7 linked regions of the Homo sapiens genome follow. The protein of the gene in region 7 purifies or fractionates together with the protein of the main gene of each other region. This does not show direct contact. Each region holds a gene or a part of one and is shown on either strand. Other genes may lie near its edges. The genes, in order: XPNPEP3, ZNF709, ZNF627, ZNF146, ZNF101, ZNF865 and KAZALD1.

The links.
Region 1: the proteins of KAZALD1 (region 7) and XPNPEP3 purify together in Homo sapiens (affinity purification with mass spectrometry; one large-scale study listed by BioGRID and IntAct). This does not show direct contact.
Region 2: the proteins of KAZALD1 (region 7) and ZNF709 purify together in Homo sapiens (affinity purification with mass spectrometry; one large-scale study listed by BioGRID and IntAct). This does not show direct contact.
Region 3: the proteins of KAZALD1 (region 7) and ZNF627 purify together in Homo sapiens (affinity purification with mass spectrometry; one large-scale study listed by BioGRID and IntAct). This does not show direct contact.
Region 4: the proteins of KAZALD1 (region 7) and ZNF146 purify together in Homo sapiens (affinity purification with mass spectrometry; one large-scale study listed by BioGRID and IntAct). This does not show direct contact.
Region 5: the proteins of KAZALD1 (region 7) and ZNF101 purify together in Homo sapiens (affinity purification with mass spectrometry; one large-scale study listed by BioGRID and IntAct). This does not show direct contact.
Region 6: the proteins of KAZALD1 (region 7) and ZNF865 purify together in Homo sapiens (affinity purification with mass spectrometry; one large-scale study listed by BioGRID and IntAct). This does not show direct contact.

What each region holds. Positions count from the first base shown.
Region 1 is NC_000022.11:40,863,648-40,867,147, forward strand, and holds part of XPNPEP3 (xaa-Pro aminopeptidase 3), read left to right. Parts: intron 1-3,500. UniProt on the Homo sapiens protein: Catalyzes the removal of a penultimate prolyl residue from the N-termini of peptides, such as Leu-Pro-Ala. Also shows low activity towards peptides with Ala or Ser at the P1 position.
Region 2 is NC_000019.10:12,474,817-12,478,316, forward strand, and holds part of ZNF709 (zinc finger protein 709), read right to left. Parts: intron 1-3,500.
Region 3 is NC_000019.10:11,603,983-11,607,482, reverse strand, and holds part of ZNF627 (zinc finger protein 627), read right to left. Parts: intron 3,274-3,500; exon of another isoform or gene 3,119-3,273; intron 1-3,118. UniProt on the Homo sapiens protein: May be involved in transcriptional regulation.
Region 4 is NC_000019.10:36,235,606-36,239,105, reverse strand, and holds the end of ZNF146 (zinc finger protein OZF), read right to left. Parts: exon of another isoform or gene 3,448-3,500; 5' UTR 2,666-3,447; coding exon 1,787-2,665; 3' UTR 338-1,786; downstream 1-337.
Region 5 is NC_000019.10:19,671,839-19,675,338, reverse strand, and holds part of ZNF101 (zinc finger protein 101), read right to left. Parts: intron 157-3,500; exon of another isoform or gene 141-156; coding exon of another isoform or gene 39-140; intron 1-38. UniProt on the Homo sapiens protein: May be involved in transcriptional regulation.
Region 6 is NC_000019.10:55,604,148-55,608,446, reverse strand, and holds the start of ZNF865 (zinc finger protein 865), read right to left. Parts: upstream 2,801-4,299; 5' UTR 2,715-2,800; intron 1-2,714. UniProt on the Homo sapiens protein: May be involved in transcriptional regulation.
Region 7 is NC_000010.11:101,060,838-101,064,788, reverse strand, and holds the start of KAZALD1 (kazal-type serine protease inhibitor domain-containing protein 1 isoform a precursor), read right to left. Parts: upstream 2,801-3,951; 5' UTR 2,674-2,800; intron 2,248-2,673; 5' UTR 2,197-2,247; coding exon 1,686-2,196; intron 584-1,685; coding exon of another isoform or gene 529-583; coding exon 368-528; intron 289-367; coding exon 141-288; intron 1-140. UniProt on the Homo sapiens protein: Involved in the proliferation of osteoblasts during bone formation and bone regeneration. Promotes matrix assembly.

The sequences.
Region 1 (3,500 bases), on a different chromosome or scaffold from region 7:
TTATAATTTGCCTACCACTGGAAATAATAACCAATAATGTCGAAAATTATTTGAGTACCCTCTGAGTCACACTGTAGCAAGTGCTCATTTAACTGACACAGCACTCTAGCAAAATAAATATTTTATGCCCATAAGAAAACAGACGTTCTGAGAGAGAAAGTAATTTGTCTAAGGCTACATAGCTTGTTAGTGAAAAATCTGATTTTTAAACTTGAGTCTAATTTCAAGTTCTCATTCCACTCTACTGCATTTCTCGGACTAGGACTTAAAGAGTTTAGGTTCTAGGCATTCCACAAACAGATACTGAGAACCTGCTGTTACCGGAAAGGGGTCCCAATCCAGACCCCAAGAGATGGTTCTTGGATCTCGTGCAAGAAAGAATTTCAGTGGAATCCACAGAGTAAAGTAAAAGCAAGTTTATTAAGAAAGTAAAGGAATAAAGAATGGCTACTCCATAGGCAGAGCAGCCCCAAGGGCTGCTGGTTGCCCATTTTTATGGTTATTTCTTGATTATATCCTAAACAGGAAGTGGATTATTCATGCTTCCCCATTTCAGACCATATAGGGTAACTTCCTGACGTTGCCATGGCATCTGTAAACTCTTGGGGTGCTGGTGGGAGTGTAGCAGTGAGGACAATCAGAGGTTACTGTCATTGCCATCTTAGTTTTAGTGGGGTTTGGCCAGCTCCTTTTTTTAAGAACATCACAGGTAAAGCTCACAGGAAGGTGACAGTCTAGGAGAAGATGTTCGCAGTGTCTAAATTTGACAGGGACTTATTTTATTTTCATTATTATTGTTACTATTATTATTATTTGAGGTGGAGTTTCGCTCTTATTGCCCAGGCTGGAGTGCAATGGTGGGGTCTTGGCTCACTGCAACATCTACCTCCCGGGTTCAAGCCATTCTCCTGCCTCAGCCCGCTGAGTAGCTGGGATTACAGGCATGCACCACCACGCCCGGCTAATTTTGTATTTTTAGTAGAGAGGGGGTTTCTCCATGTTGGTCAGGCTGATCTCGAACTCCCAACCTCAGGTGATCTGCCCGCCTCAGCCTCCCAAAGCGCTGGGATTACAGGCATGAGCCACCGCACCCAGCTGGTCAGCTTCTTTACTATAACCTACCTGTTTTATTAGCAGGGTTTTTGTGTCCTGCATTTTGTGCTGACTTCCTATTTCATTCTGTGATTAAGACTGCCTTAACTTACTGGGAATGTAGCCCAGTAGGTCTTAGCCTTATTTTACCAAACCCCTACTGAAGATGGAGTTGCTCTGGTTCAAACGCCTCTGACACTATGATACAGAGAAAAGGTAGAAAATAGGAAATTCTGCTCTTAAGAAATTCATATAGTTTGAAAAAACTAATTTCAGTGGAGTGTAAAGTTATAATACGAGCACTTGTTTCTGCAGTTATACCCTTCTTTGTTGATCCTTTGCCTCCCAGCCATCCGCTGTGCCATTTTCTCTGCCTCTTCACAACAAAACTTATCCAGAGTATTGTCTCAGTGTCTTTGCTTTCTTACATCCTATTCCCTCCTTGGCATACTCCAATCTGTCTTCTGTCTTCTTTACTCTGCTAAAATCGCCAGGGTCTCCAGTGATTGATGTTACCATATCCAGTGGTTGTCCTTTTGGCTTCCTTGTATTTTGAAGCACTTGCCACACTGTGAGCCCTCCTCACTTTTTTTTTTTTTTTTTTTTGAGATGGAGTTTCACTCTCGTTGCCCAGGCTAGAGTACAGTGGTGTGATCTCGGCTCACTGCAACCTCTACTTCCCAGGTTCAAGCCATTCTCCTGCTTCAGCCTCCCGAGTAGCTGGGATTACAGGCATGTGCCACCATGCCTGGCTAATTTTGTATTTTTAGTAGAGACAGGGTTTCTCCATGTTGGTCAGGCTGGTCTCGAACTCCCGACCTCAGGTGATCCACTTGCCTCGGCCTCCCAAAGTGCTGGGATTACAGGTGTGAGCCACTGCGCCTGGCATAGTCCTCCCCACTTCTTAAAACACTTGTTTTTTAACTTCCTAAATACCACACTCTTTTTTTGTGGGGGGCGGGGGGGCAGCGGGTAGAGACAGGGTTTAGCCATGTTGGCCAGGCTGGTCCCGAACTCCTGGCCTCAAGTGATCTGTCTGCCTGCCTCGGCCTCCCAAAGTGCTGGGATTACAAGCATGAGCCACCATGCCCAGCACTAAATACTGTACTCTTCTAGTTTTCCTTCTTTCTCCTGTGCTCTTTCTCACACTAAAATATTACAGTGCCAGGCTTTGTTCAGTCTCCCTGGGTAATACCCATTCCCAGGGCTTTAGATGCCATCTGTGTGCTTATAACACCCTAATTTATATATCTAGCCTAGCACTTTTCTCCCTGAAATTAAGATTGCTCTTTGACCTCTCCATTAAATTTATTTCCAATAAATATCTCAGGCTTTCCTGTTGCATGTAGTGGTACAACCATTTATTCACTTGTTCAAGTCAAAAATCAAGAATTATTCTTAATTCCTCTTTTTTCTTTATTTCTTATGTCCAATTAGAAGCCAGACTCATTGACTTTTAACTTCAAAATACATTTCAAATCAAGTCACTGGGAAAATAAAGTCAAATAACAAGTGATCTCTGCTTCCAAAGATTGTTCATAGTAGACTGGCAAACTAATTAGCAATTATGTGAAGTGTAGTAGGTATTAAAATAGAAATCATAGGAGCGTTGGGGAAGACATCTGAAACAAGCAGAACAGAGGCAGTAGGTGTGAGAAGAGTAAGAGAAGTCTCTTGCGTAAGTGATGTTTGAGCTGGTATTTTTTAGAATTTCTGTAATCGTATAAGCAGGCAGTGTCCACTTTAGACTAAGAGAACTATATTTTTTAATGCAAATGCTATTATGATGCAGAATGATTTAGCCGGGGTTCTTCAAGTAGCTTAGTGTGGCTGCAATAATGTTTTTTGAGGATTAGGTCAGATAAGGGAGCAGGATCCAAATCATGAAGTTTCCTAAGCAAAAGAGTTTGAAGCTTATGAACTGGATATTTTTGAAATAGGACTTAACACACCAGCTTTGCTACTAATTATATGACTTCGGGCAAAAGATGTTTAATGTAAGTAAAAAGCTATTGAGACCTTTTTTAAAAATTTACTGGGAATAAACATCTTAATTTATGTCTCCTGTTAAAGTGTTACTTGTTTGCTTTGAATTTAATAAAGTTAAGCTCCCTCTGCTTGAGAGTGGTCCAAAATATGCTAGGATTATTTCATATGAGCATTGAAAAAGGAATCAGTTAACTTTTTATATTCTGAAATTTTACTGCCTAATGAGATTACAGAAGACACTATGTGTGCATGAGTACGTGTGCACGAGCGTGCATGTGGAGAAGGTGCAGGAGGAGAGAAAGAGAAATCACCAATGCAACAGCAGCCTACTCCACCAGTGGGTTAGTGCTGCTGGAGGGAGATGAAAAGATTAGGAAGGTAAGATAGCTTTGAAGGCTTTGTATTCTAAATTAAGGAGT
Region 2 (3,500 bases), on a different chromosome or scaffold from region 7:
GCAAAAGTATAGTCAAATCCAGAATATTCTTATACATAATGGTGGTACAAACATCACTTTCAACTCTAGTATAAAAGCTAAAAGATGAAAGTATTTAAAGTGACTATAGCTACCATAACTTGTAAAATGGACACTGAATATTAAAAAGATGTAAATCCTGGCCAGGCACAGTGGCTAACACCTGTAATCCCAGCACTTTGGGAGGCTGAGGCAGGCAGATCACCTGAGGTCGGGAGTTGGACACCAGCCTGTCCAAAGTGACAAAACCCTGTTTCTACTAAAAATACAAAAATTAGCCGGGCATGGTGGTGGGCACCTGTAGTCCCAGCTACTTGGGAGGCTGAGGCAGAAGAATCGCTTGAACCCAGGATGCGGAGGTTGCAGTGAGCCAAGATCGCACCACTGTACTCCAGCCTGGGCAACAGAGTGAGATTCCGTCTTAAAAAAAAAAAAAAAAAAAAAAAAATCTAAGCATCTACATGAGGAAAGCAAGAAAATATGAGCAAATTAAACCCAAAGTAAGCACACAACAGAAGAAATAGTAAAAAGAGAAATTAAACAAAACCAAAGGTGTTTCTTTGAAAAGATCAATATATTTGATAAATGTATGGTTAAGCTAACTGAAAAACAGAGAACAGAAATTACTAATATCACAAATGTAAGTGGGAAAAATAAAAATGAAAAAGCTATGGGCAAAATCCAACATGCATTTATGATAAGAAACTGGAGATAGACTTTCCTCTTTTTGAGAAGCAGTATTTATAGGAAACCTGCAGCTAATATCATATTTAATAGTGAGAAAATAGATGCTTTCCTGGTAAGATGAGGAAATGGGCAAAGATGTCCCCTCTTACCACTCCTACTCAACAGATTGTACTCAAAGTGTAACTAATGAGAGGAGAGGGGAGGAGAGGAGAGAAGAGATATAGATTGGGAACAAAGAAATATCACTGTCTTTGTCGCATGTGACATGATTGTCTAAGTAGAAAATCTCAAAGAATCCACAACAAACTCCTCAAACTAGAGGTTGAGGATATAATCTTAATATACAAAAGTCAATTGCCTTCTTACAGACTCACATTAGTATAGTATAGACTCACTGAGTCATCTGATTTTCAACAAATGACCAACAGCAATTCAATGAAAAAAGATAGCCTTTTTCAACAAACAGTGTTGGAAAAACTGAACATCCACATGCAAAACACAATGAAAAAAACACAAATCTAGAAACAGACGTTACACCTTAAACAAAAACTGGCTCAAAATGGATCACAGAACTAAATGTAAAATCTAGGCCAGGAGCAGTGGCTCATGCCTGTAATCCCAGCACTCTGGGAGGCCATGGCAGGAGGATAGCTTGAAGTCAGGAGTTTGAGACCAGCCTGGGCAACTAAGTAGGACCCCATCTCTACAAAAAATACAAAAATTAGCCAGGTGTGGTGGTGCACGCTTGTAGTCCCACCTACTCAGGAGGCTGAAGTGGGAGGAGTGCTTGAGCCCAGGAGGTTGAGGCTGCAGTGAGCCAAGATTGCACTACTGCACTCTGGCCTGGGCAAGAGGGAGAACTTGCCTCAAAAAAAAAAAAAAAAGTAAAGTTATAGGATACTAAAAGTTAATGAAGAAAATCTAGGTGACCCTGGGTTTGGTGACAAATGTTTAGATATAAGCAAAATCCATACAAAATAAATCAGTAAGTTTGACTTCATTAAAATGCAAAAGCTCCTTCTCTATGAAAGCTCTGTGTTAAGAGAATGAAAAAGACTCTAGAGCCTTTTGCGGTAGGGGGACCCACTTAAGGTGGGCCAATTTGCAATTAACAGCATAAAGTGGTTAAGTAAAATTTATAAACAAGGAATATGTTGCCTCCAGAACATCAAAAGAACCTAGAAGATGCTGTGGGTAGTCAGAGGGACAATAGCTATTTCATAGTAGTGTCAGGGATGGAGCGGCCCTCCTTTTACCAAATGGTTTTTAGGAACTTAACCAAAACATAAAGGTCTCTTATTTTATATATGGGGCAATGGACTTTTTGTAAGCTCTATTTTTTTTTTCAGTATTTATGTGTCCTGAATGAATGCCAAAACAATGTCCTCAGACAAGGCTGTCATTAATGTAATATCATACCTGTGTTCTAGAGAAAGGTGGATGCAGTTCAGATTTTGCCTGCAAAGACTGTGCAACAGCAAGGCTGTTGAGGTTCCCTTGGGAAACTAGGTAAAGTTATATAATTAGCCTGTGAGATGGTGAAATCTGTGAGATCAGCTGGATGGTGTCAGTAATTTCCATGTTGGATATTGGTATAGGGGCTTAATGGGTGGGACCACAGCATTAAGGTTATGGTAATCCATTGTGGGTTGCCATTCATTCTCTCCAAGTTTAAGAAAGGCCAAACTGTACTTTTAAAACGAGAAGCACGGGGAATAATCACTTCCTCACTAAACAAGTTTTACATAATACTTTTCAACCCTTCAAGGCCCTGTTCAATTTATATTGAGCCATCATAACTAATTTAACTGGGGAGTAAGTTCCACAGGGTCTCATTCTGTCAAGCCAGTTTGTAAGTGCCAAAGATTTAATTTAAATTTCACTTATGACTCACTGGTTTAGAGTTTACCTGTTCATTCTGGCGTATTTTAGGACACTGGGTGCCATGAACATGGGGAATTTAGGCACAGTTATGATGGCTAAGATGAGACATACTTATTTGTCTTCTATTTTATATTCAGTAACTCCCTTAAGATTATCAGGGGATACCTTGCTTAAATTTTAGTGGGTCTCCCAGGTATAACCATAATTTGAGCCCTTGTATTGGCTAATCCTATAGTGTGTTAATTAATACATTACATAAGATGTTAAAATTAATACAGAACCTATGATATAGAGGCTCTTTTATCTTTTTTGCCGTCTAAATTCCTTTAGTCTATTTGGAATTTCCAATTGGGTCAAATTGTGGACCTCTTTTTCAGCATTTTTTTCTTTTGTTCCTTTCCTTCCTAACATGTTTGTTTTGTTTTTGTTTTTGTCCCTGGATATATTTTGACAGCAAAATCCTCTCTACAGGGGAGGGGTGTTCTTTTCCCTCCAGAGAGCCACAAATCACTATTATCAGGCTTAGGGGCCTGTCCCTCATGGTTGCTTTATAAAGTTTAAGCACCTGGGCCTTAAGCTGGCTTTGAATGAACCCTTTGCAATGCTGCAGAGGAAACATGAGTGTGCCCTATAATCCTGAGGGTCAGCATCCTTGCTGCAATAGAGCAACAGCAGCAACACTTAAGGGTCCTTGGGAGCCCTGTGCTATTAGGAGTGTGGACTCGGCCCACCATCTAACAGCTGCCTTTCCCCCTCTCTTTTGTCTCTTTTTCAAAAATGACTGCTCTGGCAGGTAGTCTTTCCCATGAGCACCTTGTATGCCAGGTCAGCAGCAGTCACAGCTTCACTCTAAAACACACAGATAAGTCCAGGCCAAGAAACACTACCCAGGACCACTTTAAGGAGTATCA
Region 3 (3,500 bases), on a different chromosome or scaffold from region 7:
AAAGTTTGGAAAAATTGCAGCCTGACAATGGAACAGAAAAAAAAACCCAGCCAGGCGTGGTGGCTCATGCCTGTAATCCAGCACCTTGGGAGGCTGAGGCAGGCGGATAACCTGAGGTCAGGAGTTTGAGAGCAGCCTGAGCAACATAGAGAAACCCCTTCTCTACTAAATATATAGAATTAGCTGGCCGTGGTGGCACATGCCTGTAATCCCAGCTACTCGGGAGGCTGAGGCAGGAGAATCGCTTGATCCTGGGAGGTGGAGGTTGTAGTGAGCCAAGATTGCGCCATTGCACTCCAGCCTGGGCAACAAGAGTGAAACTCTGTCTCAAAAAAAAAGAAAAGAAAAGAAAAACCCATTTTCTGGGGAGAAATTCAAACCAGCTACAGAAATTTGTGAGTAACGAGAAGCCAAATGTTAATCACCAAGACAATGGAGAAAATGTCTCCAGGACACATCACAGACCTTCATGGCAGCCCCTCCCATCACAGGCCTAGAATCCTAAAAGGAAAAAATGGTTGGTTTCCTGGGCCTGGTCCAGGGCCCCTTGCTGTATGCACCCTAGGGACTTGGTTCCCTGTGCCCAGCCACTCCAGCCATTGCTAAAAGGAGGCAAGGTACAATTCGGGTCATGGCTTCGGAGGGTGCAAGCCCCAAGCCACAGCAGCTGCCATGTGGTGTTGGTCCTGTGGGTGCACAGAAGACAAGAATTGAGGTTTGGGAACCTCTGCCGAGATTTCAGAAGATGTACAAAAACGCCTGGGTGTCCAGGCAGAGGTGTGCTACAGGGGCGGAGCCCTCATGGAGAACCTCTGCTAGGGCAGCGCAGAAGAGAAATGTGGGAACTGGAGCCCCCACAGAGAGTCCCCACTGTGGCACTGCCTAGTAGAGCTGTGAGGAGAGGGCCACCATCCGTCCTCAAGAACCCCAGAATGGTCAATCCACTGACAGTTTGCACCACGCACCTGGAAAAGCCACAGACACTCAGTGCCAGCTGTGAAAGCAGCCAGGAGTGGGGGCTGTACCTTGCAAAGCCACAGGGGCAGAGGTGCCCAAGGTTGAGGGAGCCCACCTCTTGCATCAGCATGACCTGGATGTGAGACGTGGAGTCAAAGGAGATTCTTTTTTTCTTTCTTTTTTTTTTTTGAGACAGAGTCTGGCTCTATCACCCAGACTGGAGTGCAGTGGCATGATCTCGGCTCACTGGAACCTCCGCCTTCTGGGATCAAGCAATTCTCCTGCCTCAGCCTCCCGAGTAGCTGGGATTACAGGCGCGTGCCACCATGCCTAATTTTTTGTATTTTTAATACAGACAGGGTTTCACCATGTTAGCCAGGATGGTCTTGATCTCCTGACCTCATGATCCGCTTGCCTCGGCCTCCCAAAGTGCTGGGATTACAGGTGTGAGCCACCGCGCCTGGCCAAGGAGATTATGTCAAAGCTTTAAGATTTAATTACTGCCCTACTGGATTTGGGACTTGCATAGGGCCTCTAGCCCCTTTGTTTTGGCCAATTTCTCCCATTTGGAATGGGTATATTTACCCAATGACTGTATCTAGGAAGTAGCTAACTTGTTTTTGATTTTACAGGCTCATAGGCAGAAGGGACTTGCCTTGTCTCAGATGAGTTTGGACTTGTACTTTTGAGTTAATGCTGGAATGATTTAAGACTTTGGGGGACTGTTGGGAGGGCATGATTGTTTTAAAATGTGAGGATATGAGATTTGGGAGGGGCTGGGGGTGGAATGATATGGTTTGGCTGTGTCCCCACCCAAATCTCCTCTTGTAGTTCCCATAATCCCTGAATGTCATGGGAGAGAGCAAGTGGGAGATAATTTAATCATTGGGGTGGTTACCTCCATGTTGTTCTCATAATAGTGAGTTCTCATGAGATCTGGTTTTATAATGGGCTTCCCCCACCTTTCCCCCACCTTTAGTCTGCACTTCTCCTTGCTGCTGCCATGTGAAGAAGGACATGTTTGCTTCCCTTCCACCATACTTGTAAGTTTCCTGAGGCCTCCCCAGCCATACTGACCTGTCAATGAAATCTCTTTCCTTTATAAATTACCCAGTCTTGGGTATGTCTTTATTAGCAGCATGAAAACAGACTAATACAGAGCCCTGGGAAAAACTAGGCTGAAGAGGCTGGGCACGGTGGCTCATGAGGTCAGGAGTTCAAGACCACCCTGGCCAAGATGGTGAAACCTTGTCTCTACTAAAAATACAAAAAAAAATTAGTCAGGCCTGGTGGTGGGCACCTGTAACCCCAGCTACTTGGGAGGCTGAGGCAGAGAATTGCTTGAACCTGGGAGGCAGAGGTTGCAGTGAGCCATGATCGCACCACTGCACTCCAGCCTGGGTGACAGAGCAAGACTCCATCTCAAAAAAAAAAAAAAAAAAAAAGAAAGAAAGAAAAACTAGGCTGAAGAGGTCTCAAGTACTCCTTCCTTCACCAAACTTGAGTCAAGCTCCTCAGAGCCCTCTTTTTGACTAGGGCTTGGCACTGGCCTGCAGAAGTCAGTTTCAGCAAGAATCCATCTAAGGTAGTTTATAGAGACTCCTCCTACCTTAATATCCAATCAAGTTCTTTTTCTCCCACCTATGAGACCCAACCAAGTTCCATTCTCTCCCTCACCTTGTACATTGGCTATAAATCCAATAATATTCCTGCTGCATTCAAGGCTGAATTCAATCTCCCTCCCCTATTACAGCTGTCATGACTCACTGCAATTGTGCTTAATAAACTTTTCCTTGACATTCTTAACAAGTTTCCAGTGCAATCTCTCTTTAACAGGGAACAAGGCTGTAAACTTGAGACCCTGGTTCATTTATCTGAAATGCATAGGGGATGACAGGCTCCCTCCCACTGGGGATGAAGGAGCTGGGAACCACACATGCCATTCTGCTGGGCCCACCCAAGTCTGAATCCATGGAGGGGGAGGGTGTCCTGAGAGTACCTCCCACCCACAAACCCAAAACACCAGGCTCAGATTTCTCTCTGGATGGCCACTCCCTGTTGTCACCCCATGATCTGGGTGAGATCCAGGATTGCAGGTGCACAACTGCCCAGAGAGAGGTCCAGGAGGTAGACTGCCTCCTACAGTGATGGGACAGGATACCTGGGAGTCCTGGCTGCCAATTCAGCCCCCACCCTGATGGAGTGTGATGGAGGGGACTGAGACTCAGGCTGCTTCTGGATAAGATGCCCCACCAGACACAGGATTTGCAAGTCGTTCTTCCACTTGGTGAATTATCTTTTCAAGTTCTTGGTGTCCTTTGAAGAACAAAAATTACCAATTTTGATGAAGTGTAAACTTTAGTTAGTAACATATTGGCTCACCAATTCTGATCATCATCATATATGATATATTGGTTCATCAATTATATGATATATATGATATCATATTTACGTACTTTGGGAGGCCAGGATGGGAGAATCACTTGAGCCAGGAGTTAGAGATCAGCCTGGACAACATAGTGAGACCCCCATCTACCAAAAAA
Region 4 (3,500 bases), on a different chromosome or scaffold from region 7:
TACCAGGGACCTGTTTCATGGAAGACAATTTTTCCACGGACGGTTTGTGGGGGTAGAAGAATGGGGATGGGATGTTTTCAGGATGAAACTGTTCCACCTCAGATCATCAGGCGTTACATTCTCATAAGAAGCGCACAACCTGGATTCCTCACATGCACAGTTCCCAATAGGGTTCGCGCTCCTATGAGAACTAATGCCACCGCTGATCTGGCAGGAGGTGGAGCTCAGGTGGCAATGCTCGCTCACCCGCCACTCACCTCCTGCCATGCAGCTGGGGGGAGCTGGGGACCCCGATATAGTGTGTATGCCATGTTAAAATAATTAAAACAGATTTGGATTGTGCTGTCCTTTTAAATTTTAATAAAATAGATTAATTTCATATTACATAGAGAGCAAGTCCATCCATTCATCCGTGATAAAATTTTAGAAATATTTTCTATAAAATGTTTAGTATTTAATTGGAAATGAATCCAGTATAACATGACTTCCACAGATACAGCATTCCCATCCTCACTCCCATTCCTATTTTGAGAAATTTTAAAAATACAGAAAAGTACAAAAAATAAGACAAGATATCCCTATACCACAATCCAGAATCAATCAGTATCTTCTTATATTTACTTGAAGTCTTTTGAAAGAGAAGTGGATGTTTATATAAAAAGCTGAAGTCCCCTTTAACCAATACCCATCCCACCTCCCACACTCATTATTTTCCCTTCTCCACTCTTCACAGGTGACCACTATCAAGAGTTTGGTCTGTATCCTTCCAATCCGTTTCAAAAACATGTACATACATATATGCATCCATTACCAATAGATAGTACTGAGTTTTATGAGGAAACTTTTAATTCAAATTTACAAAAAAGTCATTGTACTATCTGTATCATTCTGCAACTTGATCCCCCCTCAACAATTCTGGGATCTTTCTGTTAATACATGTGGATTTCATTTGTTGCATTTTACAGATATATAGTATTACATAAGAATTTCCCATATTGTTCGTGATGGGCTTTCTCAGTTGTTTCTAATTTTTGGCTACTACAAATCAAGCCACAGTAAATATCCTAGTGCGTATTTCCTGAGCATTCATACTCATAAGTAGAACCGCTAAGTATTTCTCAAATTGTTCCAAGGAATGTTTCCCTATTCCCAAGGTCATATGCATTTTAGTACATAGCTTTTCCATATTTCTGTTTTTAATCTCTGGATTCACTTTTGTGTATAGTTCATGGTCTATTTTTCCCCCTTGGAGAACAAACTACCTCCACTTAAAAAAAATAGTTCCATTATTTCCTCATTTCCTGATGCCACTTGTATCATATTCCAAATTCTAATAAATGCATAGGTCTTTTTTTGAAATCTCTTCTGCTCTGCTCAATCAATACCACAGGAGTCTTAATATTAGTTGTAGATGACCATGTCATCTATTTTTGTCTGTTCCTTTCCAATATTTACAACTTAATTTTTCTTGTTACTGGCGAAGATCTCCAGATCTATGGTGGTAGCAATAAAAAACAGGCCTCCATTTTCTGTTCCCACTTTTAGTGAAAATGTGCCTAAACTTTCACCATTATCTCTGCTGCAGGTTTCTCTGTTGGACACAGGGTTTTAATCATATGCATGTCTTTCTCTTCAGTACAAATTTTCTGGTGTCCCTTAAGTTTTTAGTACTTGTTAAAGTTAACCTCATTCGTGGTGCTTTGCTTCAGAAGGATTATTTCTGGGGCATGATGAGGTGCAAATTTCTAATGAAAGCTTTCCCACTTTCAAGGCTTTCATGGGGTTTTTAGTGAGTATGAATTTTCTGGTGTCTAATGTGGTGTGACTTCTGGCTGAAAGCTTTCCCACATTCACTGCACTGATAAGGCTTCTTACCTGTGTGTATTCTCAAATGCAGAGCAAGGGTTGAGAACTGAGAGAAAGCTTTCCCACATTCATTACAACCATAGGGCTTCTCCCCTGTATGGCTTCTCACATGCACAGTGAGAGATGAGCTCTGAGAGAAGGCTTTTCCACAAACATTGCATTCGTAAGGTTTATCACCTGAATGAATCCTCACATGTACAATAAGTGATGTTCGCTGAGAGAAGGCTTTTCCACATTCGTTACATTCATAGGGTTTCTCTCCAGTGTGAATGTTCTGATGTTTTATGAGGTACTTCTTCTGGCCAAAGGCTGTTCCACATTCACTACATTTAAAAGGCTTCTCTCCAATATGGATTTTCTCATGCTCAGTAAGGTTGGATTTGCCACTGAAGGTTTTTCCACACTCCTTACATACAAAGGGCTTCTCTCCTGTGTGAGTTCTCTGGTGTCTGATGAGGTTTGACTTCTGAATGAAAGCTTTCCCGCAATCTTTACACTCAAAAGGTTTTTCTCCAGTGTGAATTTTCTGGTGCGTAAGGAGGTTTTCCTTCTGGCTAAATGATTTTCCACATTCATTACATTCGAAAAGCTTCTCGCCAGTATGGGTGTTCTGATGTTTAATGACATACTGCTTTTGGCTAAAGGCTTTTCCACACTCGTTACATTCAAAAGGTTTCTCTCTCGTGTGAAAATGCTCATGCTCAGTGAGGTTTGATTTGTGGCTGAAGACTTTTCCACATACCTTACAGGCAAAGGGGTTTTCCCCACTGTAAATTCTCTGCTGGCTGAGGTGTGACATCTGAATGGAAGCTTTCCCACATTCACAAGGTTTCTCTCCAGTAAAAATTTCTTGATGAGTGAGGATTTACTTTTGGCTGAAGATATTTCCACATCTCTTACATTTATAAGGCTTCTCTGTGTATGATCTCCCAAATGCAGAGTAAGGGATAAGGTTTGAGAGGAAATGTTATCATACTCAGTATATTCAATGCTTTCTCTCTAGAAAAATTTTCTAATATTCAATGAAGTATTGCTACCTTCACTAGTTTCTCTCCAGCATGAATTTTCTGCTTCTCAATGAGATTGTCATCTAGCTAAGGGCTTGTCAATACTCCTTAGAAGCACAGGGTTTCTCTTCAGCATGACTTGCACGTTCGACGAAATGCAACATATGAGTAACAGTTCCCCCACATTCAGTAAATTCATAGGGTTTCTCTCCAGTATGAACACTCTGGTAACAGATGAGGTACAAACGTTTTAAACCAAAGACATTTACACTTAAAGGGGGTTAATACCATAAGGAGTAAGCTGTGGTAGAGAAGCTCCCAACTAAGTCCCTTGATGATTCTTTCCTACACAACCTCCCTCATGATTTCAGTCCAGGTTGTGTTTCAAACTGAAAACTTCAAAAAGGTGTGGCCTTAAAACAAATACGATCTGAGAACAGAGGAAGTATTTTTTCTTATATTCAACGCTCTTTTTCTCAGTCTTTCCTGGAGATGGATCAACATGCCTCCCAAGTCCTGGTGCCTCTCAAGTCCTGGTGCCTCTCTATCTGTGCATCATCTTCTCAGGCTTCTTCTAAAATGGAGTACAAAGAACCATAGCACAAAGGAGTTAAATTCATAAAGTGC
Region 5 (3,500 bases), on a different chromosome or scaffold from region 7:
GGTGAAACTCCGTCTCTACTAAAAATACAAAAAATTACCTGGGCATGGTGGTGGACGCCGGTAATCCCAGCTACTTGGGAGGCAGAGGCAGGAGAATCCCATGAACCCGGGAGGCGGAGGTTGCAGTGAGCCGAGATCATGCCATTACACTCCAGCCTGGGCAACAAGAGTGAAACTCCATCTCAAAAAAATAAAATAAATTAAGAAAAATAATAAATTGGCTGGGCGCGGTGGCTCATGCCTGTAACCTCAGCACTTTGGGAGGCAGAGGAGGGTGGATCACAAGGTCAGGAAATTGAGACCATCCTGGCTAACACGGTGAAACCCCGTCTCTACTAAAAACGCAAAAAAGTAGGCTGGCATGGAGGCAGGCACCTGTAGTCCCAGCTACTGGGGAGGTTGAGGCAGGACAATGGCATGAACCTGGGAGGCAGAGGTTGCAGTGAGCCGAGATGGCGCCACTGCACTCCATCCTGGGCGACAAAACGAGACTCCATCTCAAAATAATAATAATAATAATTTTAAAAACCTCAACGAATACAAAACCCAGGACACCAAATAGTTTCACTGCTGAAATCCACCAAAAATTTAAAAAAGAATTGCTATCAATCCTCCTCAAACTCTTCCAAAACTGAAGAGGGGACATTTCCAAACTCCCTCTATGAGGTCAAAATTATGCTGACACCAAAGACAGACACTACAAAAAACAAAACTACAAATGCCCTTTATGAATATCAATGCAAAAAATCCTCAAATAAATGCTAGCAAATCATACCTGACAGCATATTTAAAGGATTATATGACATCATCAAGAGAGATTTATCCGCAAAATGCAAGGATGGTTCAAATATGAAAAACAATGGGGCTGGGTGCGGTGGCTCACGCCTGTAATCCCAGCACTTCGGGAGGTCGAGGCGAGTAGATCACTTGAGGTGAGAAGTTCAAGACCAGCCTGACCAGCATGGTGAAACCCCATCTCTACTAAAAATACACAATCAGCCAGGTGTGGTAGCCCACACCTGTAGTCCCAGCTACTCGAGAGGCTAAGGCAGGAGAATCACTTGAACCCAGGAGGCAGAGGTTGCAGTGAGCTGAGATCACACCATTGTACTCCAGTCTGGGCAACAGAGGTAGACTGTCTCAAGACCAAAAAAGTCAGCTACATTTATATGCACCAAAACTGAATAATGTGAAAAAGAAATTAAGAAAACAATACCACAAACAATAGCACCAAAAAGAATTGAATAGGCCAGGCGCGGTGACTCACATCTGTAATCCCAGCACTTTGGGAGGCAAAGGCAGGTGGATCAAAAGGTTAGGAGTTCAAGACCAGCCTGGCCAAGATGGTGAAACCCCGTCTCTACTAAAAATACAAAAATTAGTCGGGCGCGGTGGCAGGCACCTGTAATCCCAACTACTTGGGAGGCTGAGGCAGGAGAATCGCTTGAACTCAGGAGACAGAGGTTGCAGTGAGCTGAGATCGCACCACTGCACTCCATCCTGGGCAACAAAGCAAGACTCCATCTCAAAATAATAATAATAATAATAATAATTTAAAAAGCCTCAACAAATATAAAACCCAGGACACCAAATAGCCCAGACTGGGCGACAGAGTGAGACTCTGTCTCAAAAAAAAAAAAAAAAAAAAAAAGAATTGAACGCTTAGAAATTACAAAACCAAGAAGTCGAAAGACTACTTGTACACTAAAAACAACAAAATGTTGCTGAATGAAATTAAAGACAAATTGAAAAATATCTTGTGTTCATGTGTTCGAAGACTTTACATTATTTGGCCAGGTGCGGTGGCTCATGCCTGCAACCCTAGCACTTTGGGAGGCCGAGGTGGGTGGATTACAAGGTCAGGAGTTCAAGACCAGCCTGGCTAACATGATGAAACCCTGTCTCTACTGAAAATACAAAAATTAGCCAGGTGTGGTGGCACGTGCCTGTAATCCCAGCTACTCCGGAGACTGAGACAGAAGAACTGCTTGAACCCAGAAGGTGGAGGTTGCAGTGAGCCGAGATCATGCCACTGAACCCCAGCCTCGGCGACAGAGCAAGACTCCAATTCAAAAAAAAAAAAAAAAAAAGCCAGCACATTGGCTCATATCTGTAATCCCACCACTTTGGGAGGCCAAGGCAGGCAAATCACCTGAGGTCAGGAGTTTGAGACCAGCCTGGCCAACATGGTAAAATCCCATCTCTACTAAGAATACAAAAAAAAAAATTAGCCAGGCGTGGTGGCATGCGCTTGTAGTCCCAGCTACTCAGAAGGCTGAGGCAGGAGAATGGCTTGAAACCAGGAAGTGGAGGTTGCAGTGAGTCAAGACCGTGCCACTGCATTCCAGTCTGGGTGATAGAGCAAGACTCTGTGTCAAAGAAAAAAAAAAGACTTTACATTATTTGGAAGGTACTACTACCCAAAATGATCTGCAAATTCAATACAATCCCTATCAAAATCCCATGTCTGGTTTTTTTTGTTTTGTTTTCTTTTTTCAGAAATAAAAATACCAGCCAGTCACAGTGGCTCATGCCTATAATCCCAACACTTTGGGAGGTCGAAGTGGGAGGATTGCCTGAGCTCAGGAGTTTCAGACTGGCCTAGCCAACATGTTGAAACCCCGTGTCTACTAAAAATACAAAAAATTGGCTGGGCGTGGTGGCAGGTGCCTGTAATCCCAGGTACTTGGGAGGCTGAGGCAGGAAAATCGTTTGAACCTGGGAGGCAGAGGTTGCAATGAGCTGAGATCGTGCCACCGCACTCCAGCCTGGGCAACAGAGACCCCCCCCGCCAAAAAAAAAGCCCGTTCTAAAATGCATATAGGGCTGAATGTGATGGTTCACGCCTGTAATCCCAACACTATGGGAGGCCGACGCAGGAGGACCATGAGGTCAGGAGTTCGAGACCAGCCTGGCCAACATGGCGAAACCCTGTCTCTACTAAAGCTAAAAAAAATTAGCTAGGTGTGGTGGAGGGCACCTGTAATCCCAGCTACTCAGGATTCAGCTACCGGGTTCAGCTACCGGGCGTGGGGGAGGGCTGAGGCAGGAGAATCACTTTAGCGGAGGTTGTAGTGAGCCAAGATTGTACCATTGCACTCCAGCCTGGGCAACAGGGCAAGACTTTGTCTCGAAAGTAAAAAAATAAAATAAATAAATTTATAAATATATATATAATCATACATAAAATTTATAAATATATATAATCATACAACTTATAAATATATATATAATCATACATATAATTTATATATATATATATATACACACACACATTTTTTAAGATGGGGGTCTCACTATATTGCCCAGGCTGGACTTGAACTCCTGGGCTAAATCGATTCTCCCGCCTCAGCCTCTCAAGTACCTAGAATTACAGGTGTTTGCCAGTGTTCCTGCCCTCAGTTCATCTTGAATTGCTGTTACAAGCCGTTGAAGTCAATTTTTAGAAAAGAACAAAGCCTACTGAAATTTTTCTTGAAGTCTGAAAATGTCTCGTGAAT
Region 6 (4,299 bases), on a different chromosome or scaffold from region 7:
GCTACTCGGGAGGCTGAGGCAGGAGAATCACTTGAACCCGGGAGGCGGAGGTTGCAGCGAGCTAAGATCACACCACTGCACTCCAGCCTGGGCAACAAGAGCGAAACTCCTTTTCAAAAAAAAAAAAAAAAAAAGCCACAGTCCTTACAATGACCTCCACAGTCTCCTGGCTGCTCTTCCCATGTGCCCACTCTATTCCTGCTGCAGGGCCTTTGCGCTGGCTGTTGCTGTTGCCTGTAATATTCTGACTCTCAGGCAACCATCTCGCTCACCCCTTCACCTCCTCCCCATCTTTGGTCAACTGTCTTCTCAATGAGCCTCTCAGTAACCAATGACCTGTCACCCAGGCCCACATCCTCATCTCCCTAACCCTGCTTCATTTCTCTCCTTACTGCTCAGCATCATTTATAACCTCACATAATCTACTTCTTTGCCTTGATTTTGTTGGTCTCCCCATCCAGATGATCGGCTTCCTGAAGGCAAGGATTTTTATCTCTTGCTCACTGTTCCATCCCCAGGACCTACAACAGTTCCTGGCTTGATACATTTTTGTTTGAAGAAGTGAATGAATGAGGCTAGGAAAGGAGGGAGTGATTTGCTCAAAGCTGTGAACCCTAGTGGAATCCAGGGCTCATCCTCCCAATCACTTCGCTCCTGGGGTTAGGGCGCTGTTAAGAGCAGCCCCCAAGTGGGCCACAGTTGTCCAGGAGAAGGGGAATTTTTACTCTTGTATAACTTTTTGGTGTGTGGCTTTTGGGAGGGACAAGATGACAAGACATAGGAAAATCCTGGGGGAGGCCATCCTGAACCACAGCCCCCCAGGTCTATCTCTTTATCCCGTGATATTCTGAACACGCACATATACTCTTGGTTTTTGTTTTTATTTTTTTTCACTGCAGCCTCGAACTCCTGGGCTCAAGCAGCCCTCCCACCTCAGCCTCCTGAATAGCTGGGGACTACAGGTGCCCACCAACCACACCCAGCTTTTTTTTTTTTTTTTTTTTTTTCCTGTAAAGACAGGGTCTCACTATGTTGCCGAGGTTGGTCTTGAACTCCTGGCCTCCAGCGATCCTCCCACTTTGGCCTTCCCAACTGCTGGGATTACAGGCATGAGCCACCTCGCCTGGCCTGTATTTTGTCTTTTAATCATCTGCCCCCTCAACTAGCATATCCACTCCATGAGGACAGGGATTCTTGTCTATTTTGTTCTCTGTTGTACCCCCAATGTAAAGTAGGTGCTCATTAAACAGTTGTTCAACCAGTGTTTACGAATGAACGTATGAATGAATGAAGAACATTCTGGGCTCGGTAGAGCTGACAAAGGCTAGATAATTTATCCCAGTGCCCTCACCTCCAAAGCCTTTTGAGACCAAAGCTTCCTTCCTCTTGTTCTTGCCTTCAAATCTTCCACTCCACCCTCACCGGCCTCCCCTGCTGCTCCTCCACTCACCGTGCTCACCGCCACTTCAGGGCCTTTGCACTTGTTGTTCTTGCTGCCTGCTCACCCAGATCTTTGCATGGCTAAGCTGCCACTTGTAATTCAGCTTTCACCTCTAAAGTAGTTCATCAGGCTCTCAGAGAACCCACAAAACCCCGTGTATCTTTGTCGACTCGTGTCTGATCAACTAGACTGTGAGACCCCGCACAGTGAGAACACTGTGTGTATCGACCCCCTTCGTGGCTGTATATTATACCCTTCAGCTAGAATAGTGAATATGCGTTCAACGCAGAAGGAATGCCTACGAGAAAAGAAGTCACACCCTAGTGAAGTCCAGGGTCTTCCCTAGGGAGTCCAGGACGATAGCCTGAGAGCTGGGTGAGAAGCTGCAGGTCAGGGCAACAGTTGTTCACGCCATAGGAAGAGGATGAGGCACATTCTGGGAAGGAAGGCTTCACCGCCTCACTGCGGGACACTGTTCTGTGGCAGAAGTAATGAAGACGGGCTGACCGCGATGAGGGTGGGGTGAGAGGAGGTACGGGAGTATGTCATGGGAGCCTGGAGCTAAGCAGGCGGATATTTCTACCTGAGGCGGGAGAGGATGTGAGTGTGAAGGAACTCTAGAGGGAGCTGTGCCGCTGCGATGGGGGGGTGGCTTTGAAAGGGGCATTCTTAAGGGGAATCACTGGAGGACCTGCAGAAGGGAAAAAGGCATTCTTGGTGCTGACCAGAATAGAAAGTATTTTCACACCCACGAAGGGGCGTTCTGCTGGGGAGGGAGGTGGTCAGGGCCATTGGGGGCTGTTGCTGTATGGACAGAGATAACGGGGGACAGTTCTGCTGCAAGGCACTAAGGAAACACTCTGGGGAGAATTATATAGAGGATACTAATAAGAGGGTTCACGAGCAGCTGCCCTACATGGGGAGGGGCAATGCTGATGGCATCTGGAGGCTGACCTGGAGGAAGCAATGACGGGGAGCGCTATGTGGAGGGGATCCTACGAGGAGGTATCATTTGGGGGCCCTGGCAGCCGTTTAGGGGATCGCCACGAATGAAAGCGCTTTGGCAGCCATCCTAGCTGGGGGCGTTCATGGGGGAGCTATCTGCAGTGATCCTACCGGGGAGCAGTGATTGGGGGTCCCTTGGCAAGGGCCCGGCGGGAGCTGCACTGACTTGCTAGGGGTTGGGGGACGTTCTGGGGACCACAGCGGGCCAGGGCGGGGCCCCCCGCCCCCGCTGCACCCGGGCCCCCGGGCCACGCACCCCGTCACTCACCGGCGCCGGGGTCTCCGCCGGGAGGAGGCCGAGGAGGCGGAGGAGGCGCCGCCGCTCCGGGGAGACCCGAGGGCCCGACCGGAAGTGCCGCCCCCTCCCCCCTCCCCGGCAGCCCCGCACCGCCCGCCTGCCCGCCCGCCCGGAAGCGGAAGTCGCGCCCGTTCCCGAGGCGCCGGCGTGGAGGATCGGAAAGAGGAGGCGGTGGCGGGGACCAGGAGGGGGGAAATGCGCTTGCGCACTGACTCGGGGACGCGAGCAGTGAAAGCCCGGGCCGATTCCGGTGGGCGAACTGAGCCAGGTGCGCCTGCGCTTTGAATGCCCGCCTCTTCTACGGGAACCCCGCGACACGCTCTGGGCGTCCGGTTAAGCCACACCTCCGGCTCGGGTCTCACACTGAAGCCCCGCCCCCTGGCCCTGAACCACGCCCATCTCACAGCGTGATTATAAGCCCCCTACTGCCTCAAAGTCTGTCTTCGTCCCCTCGCCCTCATGCAGTTTCTCCTGTTCTTCCCCCTCTCCAAGCTCCCACTCTCTGGAACTTCACCCCTCCCTAGGCCCCGCCCCCTCCATCCAAGCCCCGCCCCTTCACCCCATAGCATTTAAGTTGCACCTCGTGACTTTTGAGTGCCTCCCACCTCTAAAGCATTCTTTTAAATCGGTGGTTGTCAAGGATAGTTGGGAGGCCAGCAGCATCCGGCTGCCTGCTCAGACCATGCGGAATAGAAGCCCTGGGGTTGGGGGTCTAGGGATCCGTGTTTTGAAATACTCTGATTCTGCTGCATGCTGGTCAAGAGCCATGGATTTACCACACTTGACACTGCCCGCTCATATAATCGCTATAATCCCGGCTCCCAACTCAGCCCCATCCCAAACAGCCAAACCCAGACCCATTCAGCCCCTCCTGCTAAGCTTCCACTCTCCCAGGAACTTCCCTTAGATTAAGTACTTCCTTCTCTCCCCATCGCCTCCATAGCAGTCGTGCGCCCCCATCAGCACCTTCTAAGTCCCACCTCCAATACCCTGTTCCCTCAGAGTTTCTCCTTTAAGCCCCGGCCCCCGGCCCTCGGCCCTGAACCACGCCCACCTCAGAGCTGAATTATTATAAGCTCCGCCCCTCACCTTAAAATCCGTTCTCTTGGCCTGGCGTGGTGGCTCACGCCTGTAATCCCAGCACTTTGGGAGGCCAAGGCAGGCGGATTGCTTGAGCACAGGAGTTCAAGACCAGCCTGGGCAATATGGCAAAACCCCGTCTCTACAAAAAAAAAAAATACAAAAATTAGGCTGGACGCGGTGGCTCACGCCTGTAATCCCAGCACTTTGGGAGGCCGAGGCGGGTGGATCACGAGGTCAGGAGGTCAAGACCAGCCTGGCCAAGATGGTGAAACCCCGTCTCTACTAAAATTACAAAAATTAGCCAGGCGTGGTGGCGGGCGCCTGTAATTCCAGCTACTCGGGAGGCTGAGGGAGAGAACTGCTTGAACCCGGGAGGCAGAGGTTGCAGTGAGCCAGATTGCCCCACTGCACTCCAGCCTGGACGACAGCAAGACTCCGTCTCAAAAAAAAAAAATTAGCTAAATATGCTGGC
Region 7 (3,951 bases):
AGAGGGGCTGTCGGTGCCCACATAGCCCAGTCTGCGGAAGGCTATGCTTGTGTATACAGACACATGGTCTGTTTCTTACACATTCACAACTGGAATCCAGCACCATCCCCCCAACCCCCAGAACTCAGGAATCCCCTTACCAGGTGTGAGCACTGTCAAGCTAGCAGGGGCCTCCACTTGACCCAGGGCATTGCGGCCAAGGCAGCGGTAAGTGCCCTCATCACTGGGACGCACAGCCTGGATCTGCAGCCAGCCAGTCACCTCAAACCTCTGGGGTCCACCCCTAAACTGGAGCCAGGCAAGGAATCAGCAGGGTCCTTCTGGAGGGCCCTGGGCTGCCTGAGGGAAGCCTCTCCCACCAGTCTACCTGCACAGAGATGTGGGGGTCATCCCCTGGCAGCTGGATGTCCAAGCCATCCTTCCTCCACTCGATGGAGGCCATGGGGTAGGCAAACACTTCACAGCCAAAGATCACATCCTGCCCTGTCACATTCCAAGTGTCATATGGATGTGACACGATCTGGGGCCCTGGGGGTGAAGGCGGGAGGTCTGAGAATAGCATGGCCCAGCAAAGGCATCCAGTCTGGCAAAGACATGATACACAAATTTTTGTGGACATGCTTGTGGCAGAACACAATATATGCTGAGGTAAATACACATCCATAAACACACCGTGACACACACAGGTACACACAGATATGGATGCTGGTACACACAAGGGTACCACGCAGACGTGGAGATAGGTATACATGCACATGTGCACATAGAACCTCATGCAGACCCAATGCACAAACAAGCACACACATCTACATTGTAGCTTGGCAGCCACTCTGTCCCTAACTGCTCCCCTGTCCTCATTTCACCCTCCCCAGCCTTTCCTGCGTGCCTGTAATCAAAACCTTCCAGATCCCCCTTCCCCTTTTCTAAACAGGCCCAGTTCCCAAAGGAGGAAAAGCAGCCGTTCCCTCCTCAGTACCCCCTGGGGGAGTCCTGCGGCAAGGCAGAGAACCTGAAGCTGGACTTGTGCGACAGGCAGGAAGCCTGCAGGAGTGGAGGAAATTGCTGGGACCCCCACGGGGTGTTTGTTTTCTGGCTGCCCCAGCCGAGCCAGACGCAGAGCCCGGGCTCAGGAAGTGAAAGTTACTAAAGCTACCAAGGAAAGCTAGAGGCCTGAATGGACCCCAGTCCCCAGGGATAGAGAAAGAACTTCCCGCTCCCCTTCACTAATCCCTAAAAGCAGGAGAAAGCAGAGAGGTGGGGAGACTGGGTGAACAAACTGCTCTAAGAATGAAACGTGATTGCATCTCACAGGAACCCGTCTTGCTGCCTGGACTCCACTGGTCTGGGAAAAGTCGGGGGGGTCTCTGAGCAAACCATAGGTTATGTGCCTGCGCCCTCAGAGGACCTGTCTCTCCCTGCCAGCCAGCTCTGGAGCTTTCACGTGGTTCAGCGAATGCAGCTTGCTGACGAAGCCCGGGACTCCCACTCCACTCCACCCCCCACCCCCACCTTAAGGTGGCAGCTTTTATGAACCAGTAGCGAGAGCAGGGTTTTATACTGGACTCGAGGCCTCTATAGCCTTATCTTTTTTGCTCTGCTGGCCAGAGACCAATGCTGTCAGGGGTCGGGGAGCAGTGCCTCTAGGAAACCTAAGTGCTGGGGTGGGGGCCCCGGGCCATGCGTACCCGATTCGCAGGGCCCCGGGTGTGCCACAGTGAGGTTGGCATCGGGCCGAGCGCGGGCCGCCTCCTGCAGGCGGCAGATCTGGGAGTAGGTGTGACCGTCGGACCCGCAGAGCGGACTCTGCGAACGACAGGCACACAGAGGTTCCGGCACCTCTCCGCGGCTCAGGTCGCCGCCTGTGTCCAGCCGGCACTCAAGCTGCTCGCCGCAGTGCCCGTAGAAGTGAGCACTGGGGTCCAGGTCGCAGAGCTGGCCCTCGAGGTTGGCGCATTCCCAGCAGCAGCCGCACGCGTCGCGCACCCTGCCCGCCAGGCAGCCCCGCGGCGCGGCGCACTCTTCTGGCCGGCAGGGAGCGCAGCCCTCGCCCTCCGCTAGCAGCCGCATCCAGCCGCGCCGCAGGTAATCTGGGCCTGGGGATGGCCTTGCGCCGGTCGGGGGCGGCGTCAGCACCACCAGCAGTAGCAGGAGCACAGGCAGCGCCAAGGCAGCTGCGGGCCGCGGCGGCGGCAGCATGGTTAGCGGGAAGCCCTGCGAGCACTCGGGGCATCAGCGCGTTCGGGCACCCTGCCAGGAAGGGAAGCCAGGTCAGGAGGTCAGAAACAGGGCCTGTGCCGAAAGACCAACCTCACTGCTTCTTGTACCAAAGCATGACACTAGCATCGCCCCCTCCCCTGCTACCAAGTAGCCTCCCCCAACACACAGGCCTAGTGACCCTCTAGGGATTATCCAGTTATGGCAGTTAGCAATCAGTTGGGCTGTTCTTGGGAGGGCTGGGAGTGAAGAGAGGTGAGGAAAGGGTGATAAGGCTCAGGCGCACGCACACCCACCACCAGCACCACTTCCGTGCACCACCCGACTCCGATCCCTGGCCCCTGAGCATCCTTGCCCAAAGAGAATGGGTGGCTCCAGAAGTAAGAAGCTGCTAATGGGGGGTGAGAACTGGGGGGGCTGATGCCGCCTCGCTTATGGCCTGGGGCACAGAGTGCTCACCTAGTGTCCGGAACTAGACCCTTCGCAGCAGCCGTGATTCGAGTCCGAAAGAAAAGGTTATGGAAAGAAAGCAGAGGCGCAGTCAGCCGGGCCCGCCGGCCACCTCTGCTCCGTCCTGAGGACTTCTGAGAGAGCCCACGAACTTGGATTCAGAAAGCAGCTCCTCCGGCCCCCTCTCTCCGCCCCTCGACTTCGCGCACCCGCCTTCCCACTAGTTCTAAGGCTGCCAATTTTATGTAGCCGCATGGGACCCTCCCGGGTCATTTCCCCCAGCCTGGCCCAAAGTCACAATGCGAGCAGAGGAGCCGTAACCAGACACCGAGGCTGGGAGAGAGGAAGGGGGTGAGGACCGGAGGCGGGGAGTGGGGGTAGGAGTTTGGCTGGGAAGCTCAAAGTGTTGGCTGAACGGCTAGGCCCTGTCCCATCTGATTTTACAGTCCCTGGCGTCGGCGAGGGCAGCTGCATAAGGGGGAGGCGGCAGGAGCTCTGGTGCCAAGTCATTTTACGTCGATGTCGGGGCGCTCCTGGAGGGCAGGACCAACCACCTTCGTCTCCCCGCAGCCCAGGGCTGGTTCCCGGGAGCGACCGCAGGCTTGCCCACCCAGCTGCCCCACCAAGGCGCGGACAGACTGGGCGCCTACATCCGCCTTCCCTCATCTGGCCTCCTTCTTCCTCCCCACATCCGGCAGGTGCTGCGACCCGCGGGTGAGCCGGGTGATTCGAGGTCGGAGCCGACCAGCGGCCGCAGGGAGAGGCGGGCTGGCGCCTCCCCGGCGGGCGTCCCTCGGGTCGGGATTACAGGTTACGGTTGCGAGGCTGGCAGGGCCGGAGACACTCGGCCTCGCGGCCGCCACCACCGCCACCGTGGCACTTTGGGCCGGGGGCGGGGAGGAGAGCATTCCTAGGGGCCCGCCAGCCAAACCCGGGTCGGGCAGGCCCCGCCCCGGCCGGCCCCAAGCGGCTCACAGAAGCCTTGGCGCAGTCCAGCTCGCGGGGGGATGGGCGAGGGTGGGGGGCAGAAATAGCAATCTGCAGCCGGCAAGGGGGCGGCACTTAGTCAGGCTCCGCCCACAAGACCCGGCTGCCGTCCCCGCCCGCCTGCGCGGGATCGACTCCGCATGCGCACTGGAGCCTCGGAATACAGCCAGGACTCTCCCGTCGGAATGCGCCCCTAAGTTGGGCCAAGCCCATTCATTCAGGGGCTCCCGAGCCACGTAGGCGCCATCCCTGGCCAGAGGGGTTCTGAGGAGGTGGGCAAGGGCAGACACTCTCTCCCGG